Homo sapiens: one gene and its partners. The protein of the gene in region 1 purifies or fractionates together with the protein of each later gene. This does not show direct contact. Each region holds a gene or a part of one and is shown in the gene's direction. Other genes may lie near its edges.

Region 1 (4,057 bases):
AATATGTACAGCAACCAGTAAAAAAACTCTTCAAAAAGATACATTATAGATAAATCAAAATGGAATTATAAAAAATATTCCAGTAACACACAGGATGGCCAGGAAAGTGAAACAGAGGAACAAAATAAACAAACAAAAGCCCAGAAGAACAAAGAGAAAATAATAACATGGCAAACTTAAGCTCTGATATATAAATAATTACATTATGTAAGTCAGTTAAATAGAATAGATAGCTCCAGAATATACCCACACAAGTATAAGTGCTGATTTTTGATAAAGATACAAAAGTAATTCAATGTAGGAAAGATCATCTTTTCCATCACATGGTAGTAGAACAATTGAACACCCACAGGCAGAAGAAAAAAAAACACGCACATTGTAATCATACTTCTGAAAACCAAAGGCAAACAAAAAACTTTTAAAACAGCTAGAGAAAAATGACACATTACCTATAGGGAAAACAATTTAAATGATGGCTGATTTCTCACTGGAAACCATGGAGGGGAGGAGTGTCATGACACTTTTCAAGTGTCGAAAGCAAAAAAAAACTGTCAACCATATTACCTGATATGGTTCTCAATGAATATAGACAATATATTTAGGTGAATCTCAACCTAAACTTCACACCTTACATTAAAACAGGATCATACATTTAAATGTAAAACATAAAACTATAAAACTTTCAGGAGAAAACCTTTGGACCCTAGTGTGGGTAGAAAAAAAACTGATAAGTTGAATTTCATCAAAATTAAAATTTTTGCTCTGCCAAAGACCCCGTTAAGAAGATGAAAAGACAGGCTACAGACCAAGAGAAAATATTTGTAAACCACATATCTGACAAATGACTCTTATACTTGGAACATATAAGGAATTGTCAAAGCTCAACAGTAAAAAAAATAAAGAATCTGATTATAAAATGGACAAAAGACATAAATAGACATTTCACCAAGGAGGATATGGATATATAGATGGCAAATAAGCACATGAAAAGATGTTCAACATTATTAGGCTTTAGGGAAATGCAAATTAAAGCCACAATGAGGTATCACTACAGCACCTATTAAAACAGCTAAAATATAAAATGGGAATATACCAAATGCTGATGAAGATGGGGAGCAAATAGATCTCTCATAGATTGCTGGTGGCAAGGTAAAATGCTCTATTCACTCTGAAAATAATTTAGCAATTACTCAATCTCACATGTCTGCGGCGTGACCCCTCCTGCTTCTTTAAATATCAGCTGGGGAAGAGGTCTGAGTAATACCTAAGAGGGAAGTGGCTTCATTTCAGTGGCTGACTTCCAGAGAGCAATATGGCTGGTTCCCCAACATGCCTCACCCTCATCTATATCCTTTGGCAGCTCACAGGTGAGTCCGGCCGGATTCTCTTCCACTCTCCTGTCTACCCCATCCTGAATAGTTCCAGGTTTCTTGTTCCACTCTGGGCCTCTGGCTCAACTCGGGAGGCTCTGTGTTCTCATCTAACATTTGCTTTTTATCAATCTCTGATCTCTGATTCTCAGGTCAGGAAGAGACTAGAGAGAGGGGGAAAAATGGCTCTGGGAACTGACTCCCCTGTTGACTGTCCCAGGGATGAAGGAGCTGAAAGAAGTGGTGCTGGGTATCAGAGACCATTTTTCTAATCCAGGTTCTGCCATGAGTTAGATAAGGAATGTTAAAGTTTTCCTGGGCCTCAGAAACTTTATCTTCTAGCCTTCTCTCCTTTTGAGGGCAACTTTAAGAACAAGATGATACTATACAGGTATGTATTTATTTACTTATAAATGTATTTATAAAATTGGTTATGCATAACAGTAATATAAATGGAAAGAATCACTTGAATTTTCTTTCCTTACTCAAGCAATGTAATCAGTCTCTACTTAGAGAACCAACTCATACCATAGGCACTTTATGTTTAATCCCATGGAGGACAGAGGACAGTTCTCCACCTGTCACTGGTATTCTAGTCTTTGAAGATTTTTCTATCCTAAGGGCTCTCAGAAAGGATCAGGAGCCCTATAAGTGAGAAATATCTCTTCTGTCATCAATCTCATGGAGTACTACCATGAGGTCCCCCTATAAGGACTTCACATAACTGCTTCATTATGTGTATCTGAGCCTGCCTGGAGTGATCTGCCCAAGACCACGCAGGCAGCTGGTGCCCCCAATATTTTCCCCTGCATCGCTAAGTGGTCAGCATCAGCAGACTCTTACCCACTTTGAATTCATCAGAAGTTTGTATTTTTGAGAGGTACCTGGGTCTAACCAGGTGGTTCTGGAATAGGCCCTCACTTTAAAAAAAAAAAACAAAAAAAAAACTCCCTGAACGGAAATGATGAGCAGAAATAGAACTTGAGGGAGATAAGGTGGAGGGGTTGGGGAAAATTATAGAGACTTTGAAAGCTACAGGTGTCCATCTGAAATCAGTCAGCGAAAGAGCACAAGTATGAAAAACTGCCATGCAGGTCCCCCTCTGCCCTCCTCCAGAGGCAGCCTGTGTAGTGTACCTCCTGAGGCTGAAAGGAGACAGAGATTGTCCTGGAACTTCCAGTGGGCAGGGCAGTGGAACAAATCCTGGCACTGGACAAGCGCATCCTTGGTTTGACTTAGTAGCTGTATTATTGTAGGCAAATTACTCTTCCCTTCTGAGCCTTGCTCTTCTCAGGTGTGTAACAGAGAATGAAATCTAAGTTGCAGAATTATTGTGACATTTTAAATGACATATCAAATGCAAAATAATTATTAAAATAATCACCATTTATTAAGTTACTACATCGCAGGTGTTTTTCATACCACCTCCTCATGAGTCTGTAAGACAGATATCATTATCCCTGTTTTACAGTTGAGGAAACTTAGGCTCAGCAGAGAGATCACGCTTCTTGGGCAAGATAACACAGCATTTATAAGGTAGCCAGAGATTGAGTTTAGAAAGCTAGAAAGCTAGTGCTCTTTTAATCATAACAAGCCGTCTATCACTGGACCTGGCACCAAAGAGATGCTCACTACATGTGCATTTGAGCTGAATCTTCCTCAGGGAGTACCAGTTGGGGTTTCTTCCCTCTCCAGGTACATAAATCTGAGGTAGAAACTGGAAAGGCCCGAGAAGAACGGGTAGCTCTGTTTCTGGGATATGGGTGTACCAACAGGGGGCCACCCTGGCTAAACTCAGAGGGTCCATGAAGCAGTTCTCATGGCCTCAGTATTCTCATCTGAAAAATGGGCACAGTAATCTGCCAATGATTTGATGATACAGTAGTGTCAAGGAGACAATCAATAAAAAGAAAACAAAAAAGTGGGTGAGGGGAATTGGGAGAGTGTTGAAAAGAACCAGAAGAAACAAGGAAGAGGGGGCAGGAGATGAGTGAGGAGCAGAGTGGTGAGCAACCTAAATGTGAATGTGGTCGGTTAGGGCTAGAGTGATGGGAAAGGTGTGTGGTGAAGCGGGAAACTTTCAAGCCTCTGTCTGTGGCTGCCTTGTGTGGCATTGAATTACACTGCTCTTTCGTGAGTACATTCGTTAAGGGGGACTTGAGTAAAGTGCAATAGATTTCAAACCACTTTGGGTTTTTTTTGCCTTTTTTTTTAAATCCATGGTTTCCTTTTATGGAATGAAATTTTACACAGAAAAAAACAAATAAATGACTCCAATGTATAGAGTTGAAGCCTAACGGAAGCAAGTCCCATAGCCTCCTATCCTACGCTCACCCCTTAAACCTCCTCCTGAGCTCCCAAGAAATACACTGAGGCACTGCCACAGCCTCCAAAGGTGGCGCCATGGGGCACAGTCTGTGAAATCCTGCCTTAGGAGCCTTGGCTCCTAATCCTGGCCTTCCACTGGTTTGGGAAACATCACCATAACCTTCTGAATATCAGCCTTCTTATCTGTGAAATGGGATTGGACTAAGTAATCCCTAAGACTCCTCCAAGCTCTGAGATGCTCTGGTTCATGGTTTTCATGAGGAGAGTGCCACAACACACTGCTACATTTGGACAGAGGCACCAAGTGTTCAGAGAAGTGCTTGGGGACGGGGTTGGCAAGCAGGAGGCAGGCTTTTCCA
Region 2 (3,500 bases), on another chromosome or scaffold:
CTGTTTTCCCTCCATCCTCTTCTAATCTTTCTCCTTTTTATCCTGGCACTCTCATCAGCCCCCCAGAAGAGGATTTGAATAGGAAGACTTTGGGATTGGGAGCCAGAGGTTCAGTAAAGGCTCTGTTCTTAGAGTGCTTGGTGAATGGGTTATAGAATGGGGATGCTTTACTCTTGTTTTGTTTTGTTTTGTTGAAGAAACGAGGTCTCGCCATGTTGCCCAGGCTGGCCTCATACTCCTGAGTAGCTGGGGACTACAGGTGTGCCCCATCCATCCGGGTGTTCTACTCTGTCTTTCTCTCCCCTCCCCCTCCCTCCCTCTCTTTCTTTATCTCTCTTTCTTTTTGGAGTAAATGTTTTTATTTTAACTCTGTCAGATGGAATTTTTTCTAAAATGTATCATATATCTTACTGCCTAGCTCAAACTCATCTTAATGACTTGAGTCATTCAGTTTACAAATGTAAGTGTAATTTAAGGATAGAACTAGGTCTCTGTCCTCAGGGAATTTATGTTCTAGATACAGGAGGCATGTTTGAGAACATCGATTACTTTTGTGTTATTGTAATGTGGTGAGACTTTTAGGGCCTATCTAGACAAATTGTTGCTATGTTAAGTGACACAGCTATCCCTTTTTGAGATTGCTTTTTATAAGTTTTTCCTATTTTCTTTTTTTGTTGTCAGTGGTATCTCAATTTGTTCCTAGTCTGTGAAACTAAGCCATTGAACTTGTTGAAATTGTATATACATTCTTAAAAAGGCTCAGGATGGACCTTGAAGATCTTAAAAGTATGTGGACTCTATGACATTGTTTTTGCTGATTTTCAGTTATGTTCTAGTTCACTGCTTCTCAAAATTTAAACGTACATTGGAATTATCTGGGGAGCTTGTTAAAATGCTCTCCAGGTAACTGTGATTGTGATTCAATATATTTTGAGGTGGAACTTGAGAGTCTCTGTTTCTGACTAGCTGCTGGGGGTTGCCAATTCTGGTGGTTTATGGACCACACTTAAGTTAGCAGGGTTCTAGGTTATATATATATCAGAATGAGTAGGTCAGAGGAATTTGTATATGTCACATTGTATCACCTTACATGTTATACTAAAATATGTGTAATTACATGACTTATCATTGTTCTTTAGATAATGAACTTCTCAAGGGCAGTGGCTGATAAAAGGCAGGTGTCTCAGTAAATGTTTATTGAATGAATGTACGCATGAATGAAAACTTTCCTGTAATTATGTGCAATAGCATACTAAGCTGTCATTTCATATAAATTTCCTGACTCCAGTGTTTTTGTGAGCTGTGGAATTGTCTGTTGGTATAATGCTTATTCTTTATGGAAAGCCAAAGTAATCAGAAAATGCCTCAGCTTTCAAGCTCCCTGGGATTCAGCCATGTAAGCTCAAAGGGTGTGGTGAAATTCTTGTAAAAATGCTTATAGTTAGTTTTAAGTGATTTGAATTTAATTTTAAAAAATTAATATAAGTTATGAGAATCTGGATTTGTAAAATTAAACATGTTAAATTGTTACAGTGAAAAGATTGGTAATTACCCTCCTTGGTATTGAAGAAACTAGCACTGGATTTGAACATATGTTCTCATTTTCCGATACTTTCTTCCCAAAATAATGTCTAAAGATCTATAGTCATAATTAAAAAATTATTTTGGTATTGACTTCAATTATATAACTGTTGAAATTGGGAGTTTGTTTAATTAAAAAATGTTACTTAATATTCAACTTTTAATTAGGGTTTTTTATTGCTAAACCTTTCTTAAGTTATTGCTAAACTTTTCTTAAAATTGTAAAAATATTAATTCCACAAAGAATCTTCTATTGTTGTTAATCTGAGATGTGAGTAGGAATTGTTTGAGAATAATATTTTTCAAAGTTTTCTGCACTCTGTAAATAGTACTATCAGTGTTCCCCATTTAATAAGCATTGAAATATGAGAAAAAACTTAAAATGTCTTTTAAGAACTAAGTGATTGAAATTTCAGATATGATATAATCAATAAAGAAATATATTAAATGTAAAAGAAAAAGGAACTGTTTGTCTAAGAAGGACATTGTCTACTTGTGGAACTGGGAAGGCTGGATACTACTTTTAGAAGAAATGAGAAAATGAACTTCATTTTTTGAATTGGGGTTATGATGTGACAGTTATTTGATTTTGTAAACTATAATTAGAGGGCAGGCAAAGATAAGAAATGAAAAAGACTTATTTTATACTGTTTACATTAAAGTCTTTAATTATAATTTAGATTTTAGAGTTTTTAAAGGTAATTTTTTTTTTTTTGAGACGGAGTCTCATTCTGTCACCCAGGCTGGAGTGCAGTGTGCGATCTTGGTTCACTGCATCCTCCGCCTCCTGGGTCCAAGGGATTCTCCTGCCTCAGTCTCTCAAGGAGCTAAGATTACAGGCATGTGCCACCATGCCCGGCTAATTTTTGTATTTTTAGTAGAGATGGGGTTTCACCATGTTGGCCAGGCCGGTCTCAAACCCCTGACCTCAGGTGATCCACCCTCCTCACCCTACCACAGTGTTGGGACTACAGGCATGAGCCACTGCACCCAGCCTAAAGGTAATTCTTAGGTAATAATTCACTTCTAGGATTTTGTTTCCTGTGGATGTTTTAATATCCATAATTTGAGTTAGTAATTGGTTTTTGCATGCTAAATAAATGTATTTCAATTAATTCATTTTTATCTCTGTGTAATCACTGCAGAGAGGCGACAAGTGCATTCCCTCTGTAAGTATAGTGAGCAATTCAGAGCACCCAGTTAAATATACTGTAATATGCAGCCAACTTTTAAGTAGGAGTCTTCTGGAGAGAATTGAGAAAATATGCTTGACAAAGCATTTCTGATGCACAGTGCTGAAATGTGGATTCTTTTTGGTATAAAGACAGTGCCTTCTCTCATGTGTCAAAAAGCAAAATAGAGTTTAGCAAAAACATTCTCAGTTCAGCAAACATTCACTGAATAGTGGTTATATTCAAGCTGCTGTGTAAGGTTTTAGAAAAAAATTTGAAACAGTTTTACAATCAGGAATGTGCATTGTGGTGCCTTCCTGGGATACTTTGATTTTTTTCATCATTTTATCTCTAGGAATACTGTGTGAAAATAGCTTCTGAAGATATCTAAATGCTGGTGTTTTGGAAATTACAGGCTCTAACAGAAAATAATAGGATTAAACAGTTTGAAAAGGGGCAGGGCTTGAAATGAGTTAAATATTGAGAATTACAGATGGAAAGCAGGTAAGTACCTTCCATTAAGCTCATAAAATCAAATTCTTTCTTGTAGAAATAAAGAATTTAAGAGCCACTTAAACCTATTTTCTGAAATTTAATGTCTGTTTGTTTCAAGGGTCTGCGTAACTTTTTAACCTGAGTTAAGAAAATGATGACTAATAAAGTCATTTGTTGCAAGTCTTCATCTTTTTTCTTGATGCTTAAAGGAGTTTTTTCTTATCCTTTAGCTGACATAGCATTTGATAGTTG
Region 3 (3,296 bases), on another chromosome or scaffold:
AAAGAGTGGGCGGTCAAGGAAGGCCTCACTAAGGAGGTGATCTGACAAAGGAGCAAGCTAGAGAAAAGCACAGTTCCCAGCCAGAGGGAACAGGAAGTGCAAAGTGGCTGCAGGGTGGTGAGGGGACACCCAGGAGCTGAGGCAGGAGGAGGAAGAGGCTGGGGAGGGCATGCTGGCTCTTTGGATTTTGTTCTAAGAACAGGGGAAACCATTAGAGGGTCTTCACCTGGAGGCTGGCATAGCTTGGTTTACCTGTAAGAAGAGACCCCCCGGCTGCCCTGGGGAGACTGGGATGTGCAGAGGGGAGGCAGGGAGACGAGCAAGGAGGCTGCTGTGCTTCCCAGGGAGGTACCAGGTAGCTCAGACCAGTGGGAAGTGGAGTTAGGCAAGAAGCAGGAGGCCTCCCAAGGGGCGGTGATCAGCCAGGCTGCTTTTCCTTCAGGTTCCTTTAGCAAATTTGTGAATGTGATATCAGCCAGGACGGCCATTGGCCACGACCGGAAAGGGCAGCTGGTGCTCTTTCATGCAGACGGCCAAACGGAGCAGCGTGGGTGAGTCCTGGGAGCTGAGGCCCCCCGGCCGGGGCTCAGTCCTGCTAGGAGGAACGTTGACCCAATGACAGCCACCCTCTGACTCTACCTGCTTTCTGGGATGTTGACACCTATCTGTCCCCCCTCCCAGGGCCCCCTCACCTTCCCACAGGATGAGGGTTCTGAGATCTTTGCCGATTCCAAGAACTCATCATCTTCAGCTTTAGGCCTCACCTTTCCTGAACCCTAGATAGGATACAAGGAAATGGTCACAAAGTGAGCAGGGAGAAGATCTTGGTTCCAATCCCAGCTTAGCCATCGATGACTTGTCTACCCACCTATGCCGTAGACAAGTCCCTCGGCCTCCCTGAGCCTCATTTCTAGCCCCTGTAAAGAGAGTGTTTTGGTTTGCTCTGGTTGCATAACCAGCACAAATTTAGCAACACTCAGCAGGGAATGTTCTTTTGTTTGTTTGTTTCTTTGAGACAGGGTCTTACTCCGTCGCCCAGGCCAGAGTGCAGTGGTGCAATCTCAGCTCACTGCAACCTCTACCTCTCAGGTTCAGGTGATCCTCCCACCTTAGCCTCCCAGGTAACTGGGATTACGGGCACCCGCCACCACACCCAGCTAATTTTTGTATTTTTAGTAGAGATGGGGTTTCATCATGTTGGCCAGGCTGGTCTCGAACTCCTGACCTCAGGTGATCCATCTACCTCGGCCTTCCAAAGTGCTGGAATTAACAGGCGTGAGTCACCGCACCTGGCTAATTTTTGTATTTTTAGTAGACACAGGGTTTCATCATGTTGGCCAGGCTGGTCAACTTGGAATGTTCTATGTTCAGGGTGTCCCATGGACAAAACCAAGATGCTGGTTAGGCAGGGCTCTTCTCTTATCTGGAAAGAATCCTCTTGTTTAGGTTGTTGGAAGAATCCCCGTCGCCTCCTCAGTTGTGACTGAGGTCTTGGTTTCCCTGCTGGCCGCCATCTGGGGCCTCAGCTCCTTCAAGCTGCCCAGGTTCCTTCCCATGTGTGTCCTCTCCCCCAGTTGTCCGGCCACCCTCTCATCCCCCTCGTATTTCAAATCTCACTTCCTATTCTGTCACCAGCCAGAGAAGGCTCTCTGTGTTGAACACTCCTGTGATTCCAGTGGCTGCACCCAGATCCTCCGGGCCGTTTCCCCTCCCTTAAGGATTCCTATGCCATGTAACAGCACAGGCATGGGTGTGATCTCACGTGTTCACAGCTTCCGGGGGCTAGGATGAGACATGCTTGGGGGCGGGGGCCACTTAGAAATGTGCCTGCACTGTGGGCGTGATGCTCTGCACTGTGGAAGGAAAAGGAGTTAAATGAGAAATGATGGTGGGCGCTGAGCCTGAGCAGCGCCGCTTTGTGCCGCAGCATCAACCTGTGGGAAATGGCGGAGTTCCTGCTGAAACAGGACGTGGTCAACGCCATCAACCTGGATGGGGGTGGCTCTGCCACCTTTGTGCTCAACGGGACCTTGGCCAGTTACCCGTCAGATCACTGGTAAGCACGTGAGAGCCGCCTTCGTGAGGGCTGAAGTCCAGGTCTGCCCCAGCCTGTCTCATTCAGCCAATATTGAGTGCCTGCTATGTGCCAGGCCCCGGGGGTTCAAGAGAGCAGAAATTGCTGCAGTCCCTCCCCCAGGATGCCAGTACTACCCAGGCCTAGGAGCAGGGTCAGTTGGTCAGCAAAGACCTCCCTGAGGATGACAGAATAAGAACTGAGATCTGAAGGAGGTGGTAGCTGGGTGGGGGTGGGAGAGCCTTCCGGGCAGAGGGCACCACATGTGAAAGGCCCAGGGCTGGGAGGGATTGTAGGGAGCGGAGGAACCTATAAAAGACTGGAGAGGGCTGGGCACAGGGGCTCACGCCTGGAATCCCAGTGCTTTGGGAGGCCGAGGTGGGAGGTTCGCTTGGGCCCAGGAGTTTAAGACCAGTGTGGGCAACATAGACCCTGTCTTTATGAAAAAATAAAAAAAAATTAGGCAGGCGTGATGGTGCACACCTTACGGTTACAGCTGCTCAGGAGGCTCGGGTGGAAGGATCGCAATACCTCATCTCAAAAATAGATAGACGCCATCTTGTAGGTAGGTAGGTAGACAGGTGAGAATGGAGAGAGGGGTGGTTGGGGGCAGCCTGGAGGGAGTTGAGGGGCCGTCTGGGGGTGTCCTCTCCTCACACATCACATCCCTCTACAGCCAGGACAACATGTGGCGCTGTCCCCGCCAAGTGTCCACCGTGGTGTGTGTGCACGAACCCCGCTGCCAGCCGCCTGACTGCCACGGCCACGGGACCTGCGTGGACGGGCACTGCCAATGCACCGGGCACTTCTGGCGGGGTCCCGGCTGTGATGAGCTGGACTGTGGCCCCTCTAACTGCAGCCAGCACGGACTGTGCACGGAGAGTGAGTGGGGGTTCTGGGGAGGGGGCTCTGCCCAGCCCTGCCTTGCCCTAGGCCCTCACCTGGCCTCCCCGGTCTTGTCTCGGCAGCCGGCTGCCGCTGTGATGCCGGATGGACCGGGTCCAACTGCAGTGAAGGTAGGAGCTGCCACGCCACTAGCGGATGGGGAGACGGTGGCCCCCGGCAGCCCCCACTGCTCCTCTGCTGCTTCTGTCTCCACCTTCTGGTCTGGGAAATGCTTGCCTCTTGTCTTCTGCCCCGGCCTCACCTGCACATCACTGTGTGACTCCCCTGTGGCTGCTGCGGCCCGTTCCACAAAGGGCTCGGCTAAAACAAGGGTCCC
Region 4 (3,500 bases), on another chromosome or scaffold:
AACAAGGACACCTGCAAACGTGCTCTAAGCAGAGGAAGTCAGTGCCACAGACAATTTAAACTGTGTTCAAGGATGAGTGAAGACCCCTGTGTTCCTGGAGCCAAAGGAGAATAGGGGAGAGTGGTGTGTAGGAGGGAGGCAGGAGCCAGCTTGTGCTGTAAGAGGGGGGGCATTCTGCCATGTTTGGAGAATGAACTGAGACTAGCAAGAGCAGCCATAGCAAGGTCACGTGGGAGGTGATTGCAGGGTCCAAGGAAGAGAGTCTAAGACAAGATGATCTCTTCCCTGCCTGGAATCTGCTGTCAGGAACAAGGTACCGGGAAGATGTGCACAGGAGGCCAGCCCTGCCAGGCCCAGGAGCAGTGGTGGATGCAACAGGGAAAGGTGGTGTCTGTTATTTGAGGGATAATGTAAGCAAGGTTCTCTTTCTTGCAGGGCCCAATGGCTGCAAAATCGCAACCCAACATTCCCAAAGCCAAGAGTCTAGATGGCGTCACCAATGACAGAACCGCATCTCAAGGGCAGTGGGGCCGTGCCTGGTAAGGATCTTGCCTGTTCTCCCAGCTAGAAAGTAAAGTGTGGTCTCAGAGCTTTCCAGCCTTTGGAATTGTATGGACCCAAAGGAATGAAGGACCTTTTTAAAAAAGATTTTTTTTTTTTTGTCAAGACTAATGAAAGGTAAACAGTTTTCCACTTTATAAAGTAAGGAATTATAAAAAGAAACTAGAAATCATGGTCAGTCAACAACTTAGAAAAAAAGATAAAGGCTTAAAGGGCAGCTGGGGCCTTCCCACCATCTGGGGGTATGACCTATTGTCACAGCTCCCATTTCGCCATAGAACCATGGGGACTTCGTGCAGGGTGAGTATCCTCTCCGACCTGGAACTGGGGAAACCACTGGCCTTGGTGGTTGTGAAAGACCTACCTCCGCTCATATTCTGAGCTCTGGGCCTTCCATGGGGGCCACAGATAGTGCCACCAGTTAATCAACTACAGTAGAGCAGGCATGTTGAGTGGCTTCCCTGGCCGCAAGGAGGGCCCGTGCTAGGAGCTAATGCCTTCTGTCATGGGGTACTGGTGGGTTTGAGCAACAGTTCTCCCACACAGAGCCTCTTAGGGTCCTGGTGGGGCCCAGGGCAGATGGGCCCCAGTGTGACTGCCTGCATCCGTCCTCGCAGGGAGGTGGACTGGTTTTCACTGGCGAGCGTCATCTTCCTACTGCTGTTCGCCCCCTTCATCGTCTACTACTTCATCATGGCTTGTGACCAGTACAGCTGCGCCCTGACTGGCCCTGTGGTGGACATCGTCACCGGACATGCTCGGCTCTCGGACATCTGGGCCAAGACTCCACCTATAACGAGGAAAGCCGCCCAGCTCTATACCTTGTGGGTCACCTTCCAGGTCAGCAGCCCCTGCCCTGGGGTTGGGACACAGCAGGTGGGGAGCGTGCCCTCCTGCTGGGGTAGTCCTTCCATTTGTCTGGGACATGGATCCTGGCTCAGGTTGACATCTGGGTTCCCGGGACCCAGCAGGGCATTCCCTGGACTCTGACATGTTCAGATTCATCCTCAGCTGTAAGGCAGGAGGCACCTGTCACATCAGCGTTTGATACACCTTCACGGCATGCCTGCATGCAGTTGCTGGGCACGCCCAGCTCTGCAGGGACAAGCTGAGGATAGGAGCAAAACCCCGTGGGAGGGCAGTGCTGTCCTGAGGAAGCCCCATTGTCAGCAGGAGTCACGCCTTGCACCAGGTCTGGAAAGGAGCATCTCAGTCCCCAAAGGGACTCTCTCAGTCATGAGATGCCACTCAGAGAAGCGAGGGCCATGTTTCCCCACAGGCAGTCGAGGCAGGTCCAGGACGTCCTCAGCTCCATGGTGTCCCCACTGGCCTCCCAGTCCAGAGGGAGTTCCAGGAAGGGGTTGTTGTAAACCTGGTGCACACATGGGTGGTGCTGATTGCCTGAACCCAGGAAAAGGTTTCCAGGGAAACGGTGCTAGAAAGAGACAGGCCTGGGTTTTCCTTCCTGGGCGGGAGGAAGGCTCAGATCATGATTAGCTGTTTCTCCCCAGGGTCCAAGCTTCTGGGCTCCAGAATACTTCTCAGTTCAGATCTCTTGGTCCCTTTGAGTGAAAAATGACAGGGGCAGTGTGAATCACAAATAGCCACAAAGCAGGAACCCCCACCTGTCCATCAGTAGATGAATGGACCCACAGAACAGAACACTGTGCCCACTGTGGGACACTATTTGGCAGCGGAAGGGAATGAAGCTCTGATGCCAGTAGGCGGATGACCCTTGAAGACACTGCTGAGCGAGAGAAGCCAGTCACAGAGGCTGCATACTGTGTGGTTCCCTTTATATGCAATACCCAGTACAGGCAAATCCACAGAGGCAGAAAGCTCAGTGGCAGCCAGGGGCGGCAGGGACAGGGAATTCAGAGTGACCGGAGATTGGAACAACATTTTCTTCTGTGGTGATGAAAAGTTCTGGAATTAGCAGTGATAGGTGTACAACCAACCATGTAAATGCGCTAAATGCCGCTGAATTGTGCACTTTAAAAGGGTGAATTTTAGCCGGGTGTGGTGGTGCACACCTGTAATCCCAGCTACTTGGGAGGCTGAGGTGGAAGGATCACTTGAGCTCAGGAGGACAACGCTGCGGTGAGCTATGATTGCACCACTACACTCCAGCCTGGGTGGTAGAACAAGACCTCATCTCAAAGATAGATTTATATATATATATAAAAAGTTGAATTTTATGGGATTCTCCATTTTAAAAAGGTGACTGGGAGGGACCTGTGCGCTCTCCTGAGGGGCGAATGGAGCCCTGGGGGAGAACGCCTTGGCACCTTCCCTGGTTGATGAGTTTATTGTCTCAGAACCCCCTTCAAAACCCACAGCCCAGCAGTTTGAGCTTCCAGGAGCCATAAGTGCTTCAGGAAGAAAAAGACTATGATTGTGATTCTCATGTTCCTGCTATGCGTCCCCCTTTGCAGGTGCCCTCCAGGCGGGGGGTGATCAGGCTGCTTGTGTGTTTCAGGTGCTTCTGTACACGTCTCTCCCTGACTTCTGCCATAAGTTTCTACCCGGCTACGTAGGAGGCATCCAGGAGGGGGCCGTGACTCCTGCAGGTAGCCTCCTCCCTTCCACCCTCCCCAGGCTCCCGTTCTCATCCCTTTCTCTCAGGGGCCAGTCCTCCCCAGCGCTGCTTTGTCCCTAAGACTTGTCACAGGATAGAAATCCATTTTGCTTGGATTTTTCACAGCACCAGGCCTCAAAACCATTGAGGGCAGCTGGGGCCATCCCACACCCAGGTTAGAAATCACTTTCCTGGGTAAGGAGGGAATGGATGGCCCAGCTCCTTCCCAGCCCCATAGCAGGGGATGCACTCGGCCCATGAAGCTTCCTGCAGAGACCACCATGCAGAGACCACCATTCCTCGGGGCTGTCCGTGGGAGACCTTGTCTGTTCATTCCTTGCCATCATTGAGAACCCACGAG
Region 5 (3,500 bases), on another chromosome or scaffold:
TCAACAACTTGACCTTCCCCTTTACATGTCCTTTTTTGTGGACTTCTCTCTTTGGAGATTTTTCCCAGTGATCTCTCAGCGTTGTTTTTAAGTTAAATGTATTTGACTTGTGTTCTCAGCATTCAGAGAGCAGCGGTGTAAGATTCTGCTGTTCTCCCTGGATCTTCTGACATTACTGCTGTCTGAGATTTGTATATGTGTAAATACAAGTTCCTTGATACCCTAAAACCTTGGATTAAACAGAATGTGCATTGTACATCTTTAAACAAAATGTATATTAATTTATTAAATCTAGTTGTCACTTTATTTTGGACCTGCTGTGATCTCGACAGGAAACGTGCCACAGAGCAGTAGTGCGCAGGCAAGACTTTTCAGTGACGCCTTGTGGAACGCAGTTCATGATGTCCTAGCAGCTCTCACTAAGGGAACTGTACATTCTTTCTTTCTTGGCTATTCAGACCTTACCAAGAACGTTAAAGGAAACAAGTAGAAATCAGCAGTGGAGTGTCTGTGGTAAGAAAACATGAACTTTATGCTTCACTGTTAGTTGTTTGTGGAAGTTATTTTGTATAACACCAAAGCTGTTGTACATTTCCTACTGCCTGATTTTTTTCATGTGTCTGTGTTTGTAATATTGTATAGTATCTTGTGCTAGGTGAGGAAATTATTTTTAATTTTGATAATTTAATATTCCTAGTGTGATCAGCATTGGGAGTTGGGTTTCAGTGGGGCATGTCTATACTTAGAGAAAAAAAGTCCAAATGAAGATTTTCATGAGTCAGCCCCCCCGCCCGCCCCCACCCCACACCCACATCCTCTCTTTTCCACACACAACTATCTGTTTATTTTTTGTAGCAGTGGCCGAAAGTCCTGCAAGGTCATAAATCTTTCAGAGTGACATCACCAACTGTACTGCATCTTACTGGATTTAGGACTTCTGAGATGCTTGTGAAGTATAGATGTGGTTGTGGTCTTAGATTGACAGCATTAGAGAAGACTGGTTAGAACATCTGGTCTCGCTGGTTAGTGCCTCGTTGGCTGAGGACTAGGTGTGCATTTCTCCTAGCTTTTCATCAGGAAATCCCAAAGTTTCCAAAGCTTTTTGTTTACAGAATAAAACTTCAAATAAAACCAATTCATTATTTGTCCAGAAGGAAGCTTGGCTGAGCTGGCCTTTTAACATAGGAATGTATTTCGTTGGAAACATTCTGAAAAATCTCAGAGAACTGAACCCTTACAAACTTTGTTTTCCCTCATAACCAAAGCTTCAGGTTAGAAGTTTAGAAAAATAGAATGGTTGGGTACATGATCTAAATGTTTAATGCTAAAGGTATATCGTAAGGGTAGTGTTTGTTTTTGAACGATAATTTAGAAGTTCTCATAGAAAGCGTATAACATAGGTCTTCAGAAACTATAAAAGAATTTTCATATAGTATTAAAATCCATAGACTAAAATCTGAGAATTTTTTAACATATGCAAGTCAGCCAAACATAAGCTACCAAAATAAAGAGCAATGTGTTCTGGCTGTTTTATACTTCAACAATTTTTTCCCTAAGTGGTAAGCAATTACTTTAAAACATATTTTTAAAAACATCGGTATCGGGAGCTGCGGTGGCTCCGGCCGGTTGTCCTGGCACACAAGGAGGCGAGGCTATGCGTTCGAGGCCAACCTAGGCAAAATTGGAAAAAAAAAAAAAAATCAGTATCAGAAATAATGCTTGACATAGGATTCAGTGTTATACTCTTTGGCACTTTAGAGCAGCCTTTTCTCTCATTTGAAATAAGGTCTTTGTTAGCCCTACCTTTACTCAGAAATTTAGTCCTACTATAAAAAATTAGGATTTTAAAATATAATGCTGCCTGTCATAGTGTATTTCTAAATTGCTCTCTTTGGGAGAAAAACATTATTATTGAATTGAGCATATAACTATATAACTATATAACTATATATATATATATATATATATATATATATATATATATATATATATATATATATATATTTTTTTTTTTTTTTTTTTTTTTTTTTTTTTGCCCCCGAGACAGAGTCTTACTCTGTTGCCCAGGCTGGAGTGCAGTGGCACGATCCTGGTTCACTGCACCCTCTGCCTCCCAGGTTCAAGCGATTCTCCTGCCTCAGCCTCCCAAGTAGCTGGTACTACAGGTGCGTGCCACCACACCTGGCTTATTTTAGTTATTTTAGTAGAGATAGGGTTTCACCATGTTGGCCAGGCTGGTCTCGGAACTCCTGACTGCAGGTGATCCGTCCTCCTTGGGCTCCCAAAGTGCTGGGATTATAGGTGTGAGCCCCCACGCCTGGCCAACTTGATTATATTAATTTTGGGTTTTTTGTTTTGTTTTGTTTTGTTTTTTAATTTTTCAAAGAATTTGTGGATCTTGGTATAAAGTCATTGGAACATATCTGTTTTAACAGCAAGAGATCCTAGGCAGATACTTCAAAAGGTTAAAAATTCTTAATCCTACAGAATTTTAAATGAATCTTATCAATGTTTTGTAAACAAACAATATGAATGGCCAAAAAATTGCCCTCCATTTTACTGGCAGGTAATTTATATTGTCTTACTTAAGAATTCTCCCCTAGTTTTTCAATTGTACTTTATCGTGTTGTTTTCAATGAGATAAGTATTTTCATAGGGAAAGCATTTTCCAGCATAATATTTGCTTGGGTAGCATCCGGGTTTTAGTATTTAACCAAGAGCCTTTTAAATATTGAAAACCCATAGTTCAGAAAATGTTAGTATTGCTGCCCTTCTTCACATAAATTTTTTTTTAAATTATACTATTATTTTGCTTAATTTTATATTGGGTTAAAACAACCTTCAAGAAGGTTAACTAGGAAAGAAGACCTTTTTGTTTTATTTTTACTATTTATATATAGAAGACAAATCAGCATTTGGTGATAGTTTTACATGACCAGTTATCAAACGGTCATAGTATGAAGTGTGCAGTTGTTCATTATTAGTAAATTATGTTTGATTTTTAAACTATTTAGTACTAATAGTTGAGATGAAAACTGAAGAAAAATGCCAATGTGACGTTTGTGTATAGCTAGCCTTAAAAAACTTCCCATGTTTTTAGGTGACTTTTTTCCCCCTCTTAGTACTCTGGAGAAACAATGAAGATGGGCCATCTCAATTCCAGATGTAAACAAAAAGTAATTTTTATTTCAACATTTAATGTAACTGCTATTATTGTGGATTCTTGTCTTGTGTATTTTCTTTCCCTTATTCAAGTAATATAGAATAACTTTCCTTAAAATGATTTGATCCAAGATACGTCATTTCTGTATTGGCAAAATGCCACTATTAAAGTGTAATTCTTGAATTTAGGTTGAATTGATGACTTTTTAAAACAAAACAAACACTGGACAGTTCTACATTGTATTGCGTTTGCGAATGTGCGTGAACACACGCACACGTGCAGGAGAATGTAGTGCCATAAGAACACTGGCGCTTTTTAAAACTTTCCAAGCTAGCTA
Region 6 (3,500 bases), on another chromosome or scaffold:
CAGAGTGAGACTCTGTCTCAAAAAAAAAAAAAAGAAAAAAATGTTTGTTTAATTGTCAGTTTGTGGCCGGGCGCGGTGGCTCACGCCTGTAATCCCAGCACTTTGGGAGGCCGAGGCGGGCGAATCATGAGGTGAGGAGATTGAGACCATCCTGGCTAACATGGTGAAACCCCGTCTCTACTAAAAAGTACAAAAAATTAGCCAGGCGTGGTGGCAGCTGCCTGTAGTCCCAGCTACTTGGGAGGCTGAGCCAGGAGAATGGCATGAACCTGGGAGGCGGAGCTTGCAGTGAGCCGAGATCGCGCCACTGCACTCCAGCTTGGGCGACAGAGCGAGACTCCATCTCAAAAAAAAAAAAAAAATTGTCAGTTTGTTACACATAACGTCATATGCCTTATTAAAAATATGTATCGAAAGCTGGGAGCGGTGGCTCATGCCTGTAACCCCAGCACTTTCACAAGAGGGAAACTCCGTCCCCCCCTCAAAAAAAAAACAAAGAAAAAACCAATGGTCAGTAGGAAAATGGGCAAAGAACATGAACATGTAAAGGAAATATAAATGATTGATTGACTGATGGATTGATTTTGAGATGGAATTTTGCTCTGTTGCCCAGGCTGGAGTGCAGTGGTGGGATCTCAGCTCACTGCAACCTCCGCCTCCCAGGTTCAAGCAGTTCTCCTGGCTCAGCCTCCCAATTAACTGGGATTACAGGCACACACTACTATGCCTGTCTAATTTTGTGTTTTTTTGTAGAAACCATGTTGGCCAGGCTGGTCTCGAACTTCCCGCCATGGCCTCCCAAAGTGTTGGGATTACAGGCATGAGCTACTGCACCCGGCCGACATAGCTAACTTCTGTTGTCCCTTTTGTTTCGTAAATCAAGTCCCAGTAGCCTGTCATCTGAGCTGAAAGAATGCTTCTTTAGCTTTTGGCTGATACTCCTCTCTGAAAGGAACATCACAAGATGTGGAGGGAACATTTGGAGCAGGTGGAATTCAGTCCTCTCCATCCAGAAGACTGATCCTCTTCTTCTGTAGCTCAATTGAGGAAAACTTTTTTTTTTTTTTTGGAGACGGAGTTTCGCTTTTGAGTCCCCAGGATGGAGTGCAATGGCATGATCTCGGCTCACCGCAACCTCCGCCTTCTGGGTTCAAGTGATTCTCCTGCCTCAGCCTCCCAAGTAGCTGGGATTACAGGCATGCACCACCACACCTGGCTAATTTTATATTTTTAGTAGAGATGGGGTTTCTCCATGTTGGTCAGGCTGGTCTTGAACTCCAGGTGATCTGCCGCCTCAGCCTCCCAAAGTGCTGGGGATTACAAGCCTGAGCCACTGCACCCGGCATTTGAGGAAAACTTTGATACTGTGGTAGTTTCTTTTTCTTTCTTTTTTTTTTTTTTTTGAGACAGAGTCTTTCTCCATCACCCAGGCTGGAGTGCAGTGGCGTGATCTTAGCTCACTGCATCCTCTACCTCTTGGGTTCGACCGATTCTCCTGCCTCAGCCTCCCGAGTAGCTGGGATTACAGGCGCCCACCACCATGCCTGGCTAATTTTTGTATTTTTAGTAGAGATGGGTTTTTGCCATGTTGGCCAGGCTGGTCTCGAACTCCTGACCTCAGGTGATCCACCCGCCTTGCCCTCCCAAATTGCTCGGATTATAGGTATGAGCCACCGCACCCGGCCTAGTTTCTATTTTTAATTTGAAAACCTCCCAAATGAAATCCCACTGTTGCACCTTGTGGGAGGTTTGATTGGAGATGGTCCACCCTTATGACTACCATGTTTTGACAGAAGAACCCTTTTGACATACAAAGTCTGCCTTGTGCCATGTGTGGCTTTGATTGTGGGATGCCTCCTTGTATCTCCTCTGTGTTTGTATCCCAAGAGCTCATTGCTAAGCTGGGTCAGAGAAGATTGCAGCATTGGCTATAGGAGTTGAGTGTACTGATTCTGGGACCTAGGCCTTCCTTTCATTGCTCTTCCATAAGTGGCTGTGTCTGATGATGGATGATAGGGTTACTTAACCAAGACAGTGGTGAGGACATTACATTTAGGAATGCAGCTGTGCTTGTCGGTTATGGGGCCAGCGACCTTAGGAAGCCTGCTGCGGCAGCCAGGTCCATACTAGCATCTGTTTTTCTTAAGGAAAAATAAAAGGGAAAGTTTTTCTTTTTTTTTTTTTCTTTTTTTTTCTTTTTGAGATAGAGTCTCACTCTGTCGCCCAGGCTGGAGTGCAGTGTCACAGTCTTGGCTTACTGCAACCTCCGCATCCTGGGTTCAAGCAATTCTCTTGCCTCAGCTTCCTGAGTAGCTGGGACTACATGAGCACACCACCATGCCTGGCTAATTTTTTATATTTTAGTAGAGATGAGGTTTCACCATGTCAGCCAGGCTGGTCTCAAACTCCTGAGCTCAGACAGTCCATCCACCTTGGCCTCCCCTGAGCTCAGACAGTCCATCCACCTCGGCCTCCCAAAGTGTTAGGATTACAGGCGTGAGCCACCGCACCCGGCCAGAAATTTTTTCTAGGCAGGCAAAACCGTGTAAAGGAGATTTTCTCAGTACCATCATCATCATCATCATCATCATTATCTTTTTTAAAAAATAATCAGAGATGAGGTCTCTCTGTGTTCCCCAGCGTGGTCTCGAACTCCTGGGCTCAAGCAATCCTCCTGCCTTGGCCACCCAATGTGCTGGGATCAATATCTTATTTTCTGGAACCTTAATCAGAGCAACTCCATCTCTTGATTCCTTGTCTGTGTATTTCATTAATGCAGTATCAGCAGTTGTCATCACAGTTGGAGTTTCAAGTCCAGGTGCTGCTGACATTAGGATGTGTCTGTTTTTAGAATCCCAGCCCTCCAGGAAGCAGTGTGTATGCAGATACTGTTTCCTGTTTCTCTGGGGTGTTTGGCTATTGTTATAACAAGCTCCAAATATAGGACTGTGTTTTTTTTTTTCCACATACCTGCACCCTTTCCCCCTCAGAGAGGTTAGTGTTACAATTATTTAGCTTATAAAATTTTGTCTTTGTGCCAAAAATGAGGCTGTTAGTGCCTAATATTTTATTTATTTATTTATTTTTGCATTTTAAAAATTATTTTTATACTTTAAGTTCTATGGTACATGTGCACAACATGCAGGTTTGTTACATATGTGTACATGTGCCATGTTGGTGTGCTGCACCCGTTACTCGTCATTTACATTAGGTATATCTCCTAATGCTATCCCTCCCTCCTCCCCCACCCAACTACAGGCCCCGGTGTGTGATGTTCCCCACCCTGTGTCCAAGTGTTCTCATTGTTCAGTTCCCACCTATGAGTGAAAACATGCGGTGTTTGGTTTTCTGTCCTTGCGATAGTTTGCTCAGAATGATGGTTTCCAGCTTCATCCATGTCCCTACAAAGGACATGAACTCATCCTTCTTTATGTTAGTGCCTAATATTTTAAAATGTAACTATTTCAGTCATTCTAACAGAAGATAATTTTTTGAATTTA
Region 7 (2,531 bases), on another chromosome or scaffold:
GCTCATCTGATGAGGATGAGGGGTTGATACTGAGGTGCCATGTAAGTTCTCACTTCATTTCTCCCACAAATCCTCCAGTGCCATGCCCCTTGCTCACAGATGCTCTGATGTGAACAGGTTTTATAGTGGAAAAGGTCCCAGGCCAGAACTGAGGCTGTCTTTGAGGACAACGTATGATGAACACAGTACTGTTTCCTCTTCCTTTTTTTCACTTGAGGTGAAATTCACTTAACATAAAATTAACCATTTCAAAATGAACAGTTTGCTAGGCTGGGCACAGTGGCTTATGCCCATAATCCCAGCACTTTGGGAGGCCAAAGTGAGAGGACTGCTTGAAGCGAAGAGTTCAAGACCAGCCTGGGCAATATAGTGAGACTCCCCATCTCTACAGAATAAAACAAAACTAAAAAATTAGCCAGGCCTGGAGGCATTGCTACTCCCAGCAATGTCCAGCTACTCCTAGCTACTCCCAGCTACTCCCAAGTAGTCTCAGCTACTTGGGAGGCTGAGGGGAAGGACTGCTTGAGCCCAAGAGGTTGAGGCAGCAGTGAGCCATGACCGCACCACTGCACTCCAGCCTGGGTGACAGAGCGAGACTCTGTCTCTAAAACAAAACAAGACAAAACAATTTGGTGCCATTCAGTAAATTTGCAATGTTACATGTCTCTATCTAGTTCAGAAACATTTGTATCACCCCAAAGAAAGACCCAGAGCCATTAAGCAGCCATGCTCCCATGTCTTCTCCCCTGGACATGTGTCTTCCCTGCTCTGTCCCTGGCTCTAGGCCCAGTGACCTGGGGAAGAACGCAGGGGACACGCTGCCTCAGGAGGACCTGCCGCTGACGAAGCCCGAGATGTTTGAGAACCCCCTGTATGGGTCCCTGAGTTCCTTCCCTAAGCCTGCTCCCAGGAAGGACCAGGAATCCCCCAAAATGCCGCGGAAGGAACCCCCGCCCTGCCCGGAACCCGGCATCTTGTCGCCCAGCATCGTGCTCACCAAAGCCCAGGAGGCTGATCGCGGCGAGGGGCCCGGCAAGCAGGTGCCCGCGCCCCGGCTGCGCTCCTTCACGTGCTCATCCTCTGCCGAGGGCAGGGCGGCCGGCGGGGACAAGAGCCAAGGGAAGCCCAAGACCCCGGTCAGCTCCCAGGCCCCGGTGCCGGCCAAGAGGCCCATCAAGCCTTCCAGATCGGAAATCAACCAGCAGACCCCGCCCACCCCGACGCCGCGGCCGCCGCTGCCAGTCAAGAGCCCGGCGGTGCTGCACCTCCAGCACTCCAAGGGCCGCGACTACCGCGACAACACCGAGCTCCCGCATCACGGCAAGCACCGGCCGGAGGAGGGGCCACCAGGGCCTCTAGGCAGGACTGCCATGCAGGTGCGCTGCGCCACACGTGGGTTCGTGTGCATTTGTGTGTGTGTGCATGCGTGAGTGCGTATGTGTGTACCTATGCATATGTGTGTGCATGTGTGTGTGCACGCATGCATATGTGCGTGCATGTGTGAACGCATGCATGTGCACACATGCGAGTGATGGTCCTGGGAACTGCTCCATGAGAAGGGAGAGTCAGGATTTGAACCCAGGTCTGCCTGTCCCACACATCCCTGACCCTGCATTGCCTCTGCAGCAGTTGTTAAAAGGAAGAAAGGCGGGGCTGTGGATAAACTTAGTCTAGTGTCAGTCCCAGAGGAAGAAGATTCCATAAAGAAAAGGAGCCTAAATCATTTATATCTCATTGTTATTATAAATTTGTTTTGCAACTGAGTTTCGCCAGGCACAGTGGATCACGAGGTCAGGAGATCGAGACCATCCTGGCCAACATGGTGAAACCCCGTCTCTACTAAAATACAAAAAATTACCCGGGCATGGTGGCGCACGCCTGTAGTCCCAGCTGCTTGGGAGGCTGAGGCAGGGGAATCGCTTGAACCTGGGAGGCAGAGGTTGTGGTGAGCCGAGATTGCGCCACTGCACTCCAGCCTGGTGACAAAGCAAGACTCCGTCTCAAAAAAAAAAAAAAAAAAAAATTAAAAAACAACAACAACGGAGTTTCACTCTTTGTTGCCCAGGCTAGAGTCCAGTGGTGTGATCTCGGCTCACTGCAACCTGCGCCTCCTGGGTTCAAGCGATTCTCCTGTCTCAGCCTCCCGAGTGGCTGGGATTACAGGCACCTGCCACCATGCCTGGCTAATTTTTGTATTTTTAGTAGAGATGGGATTTCACCATGTTGGCCAGGCTGGTCTCGAACTCCTGACCTCAGGTGATCTGCCTGCCTGGGCCTCCCAAAGTTCTGGGATTACAGGCATGAGCCACTGCACCCAGCCTCATTGTTATTATTAAGTCGCATTCATACTTGAAAATTTCCCAATATTTTGGAGAATTCAGCACACTTTCCCTCTCCTTCATGTAAAATAAAAAATTTTTTGAGCAAAACTAACAGTGATTAAGAACAGACTCCAGGCCGGGCGTGGTGGCTCATGACTGTAATCCCAGCATTTTGGGAGGCCGAGGTGGATGGATCACCTGAGGTCAGGA

The links.
Region 2: the proteins of SLAMF7 (region 1) and TBC1D23 purify together in Homo sapiens (affinity purification with mass spectrometry; 3 studies listed by BioGRID and IntAct, with this or other methods). This does not show direct contact.
Region 3: the proteins of SLAMF7 (region 1) and NAGPA purify together in Homo sapiens (affinity purification with mass spectrometry; 3 studies listed by BioGRID and IntAct, with this or other methods). This does not show direct contact.
Region 4: the proteins of SLAMF7 (region 1) and DHCR7 purify together in Homo sapiens (affinity purification with mass spectrometry, with the first as the bait; one large-scale study listed by BioGRID). This does not show direct contact.
Region 5: the proteins of SLAMF7 (region 1) and MARCHF6 purify together in Homo sapiens (affinity purification with western blotting, with the first as the bait; one study listed by BioGRID). This does not show direct contact.
Region 6: the proteins of SLAMF7 (region 1) and DAGLB purify together in Homo sapiens (affinity purification with mass spectrometry, with the first as the bait; one large-scale study listed by BioGRID). This does not show direct contact.
Region 7: the proteins of SLAMF7 (region 1) and INPP5D purify together in Homo sapiens (affinity purification with western blotting; one study listed by BioGRID). This does not show direct contact.

What each region holds. Positions count from the first base shown.
Region 1 is NC_000001.11:160,737,990-160,742,046, forward strand, and holds the start of SLAMF7 (SLAM family member 7 isoform a precursor), read left to right. Parts: upstream 1-1,257; 5' UTR 1,258-1,312; coding exon 1,313-1,367; intron 1,368-4,057. UniProt on the Homo sapiens protein: Self-ligand receptor of the signaling lymphocytic activation molecule (SLAM) family.
Region 2 is NC_000003.12:100,263,992-100,267,491, forward strand, and holds part of TBC1D23 (TBC1 domain family member 23), read left to right. Parts: intron 1-3,500. UniProt on the Homo sapiens protein: Putative Rab GTPase-activating protein which plays a role in vesicular trafficking. Involved in endosome-to-Golgi trafficking.
Region 3 is NC_000016.10:5,027,640-5,030,935, reverse strand, and holds part of NAGPA (N-acetylglucosamine-1-phosphodiester alpha-N-acetylglucosaminidase precursor), read left to right. Parts: intron 1-442; coding exon 443-551; intron 552-1,927; coding exon 1,928-2,056; intron 2,057-2,750; coding exon 2,751-2,956; intron 2,957-3,042; coding exon 3,043-3,090; intron 3,091-3,296. UniProt on the Homo sapiens protein: Catalyzes the second step in the formation of the mannose 6-phosphate targeting signal on lysosomal enzyme oligosaccharides by removing GlcNAc residues from GlcNAc-alpha-P-mannose moieties, which are formed in the first step.
Region 4 is NC_000011.10:71,441,894-71,445,393, reverse strand, and holds part of DHCR7 (7-dehydrocholesterol reductase), read left to right. Parts: intron 1-435; 5' UTR 436-441; coding exon 442-539; intron 540-1,107; exon of another isoform or gene 1,108-1,178; coding exon 1,179-1,401; coding exon of another isoform or gene 1,402-1,437; intron 1,438-3,040; coding exon 3,041-3,131; intron 3,132-3,500. UniProt on the Homo sapiens protein: Oxidoreductase that catalyzes the last step of the cholesterol synthesis pathway, which transforms cholesta-5,7-dien-3beta-ol (7-dehydrocholesterol,7-DHC) into cholesterol by reducing the C7-C8 double bond of its sterol core.
Region 5 is NC_000005.10:10,433,695-10,437,194, forward strand, and holds part of MARCHF6 (E3 ubiquitin-protein ligase MARCHF6), read left to right. Parts: 3' UTR 1-3,500. UniProt on the Homo sapiens protein: Endoplasmic reticulum membrane-associated E3 ubiquitin ligase that plays a critical role in mitigating endoplasmic reticulum stress, the regulation of cholesterol and lipid homeostasis, and ferroptosis.
Region 6 is NC_000007.14:6,437,955-6,441,454, reverse strand, and holds part of DAGLB (diacylglycerol lipase-beta), read left to right. Parts: intron 1-3,500.
Region 7 is NC_000002.12:233,203,342-233,205,872, forward strand, and holds part of INPP5D (phosphatidylinositol 3,4,5-trisphosphate 5-phosphatase 1), read left to right. Parts: intron 1-784; coding exon 785-1,376; intron 1,377-2,531. UniProt on the Homo sapiens protein: Phosphatidylinositol (PtdIns) phosphatase that specifically hydrolyzes the 5-phosphate of phosphatidylinositol-3,4,5-trisphosphate (PtdIns(3,4,5)P3) to produce PtdIns(3,4)P2, thereby negatively regulating the PI3K (phosphoinositide 3-kinase) pathways.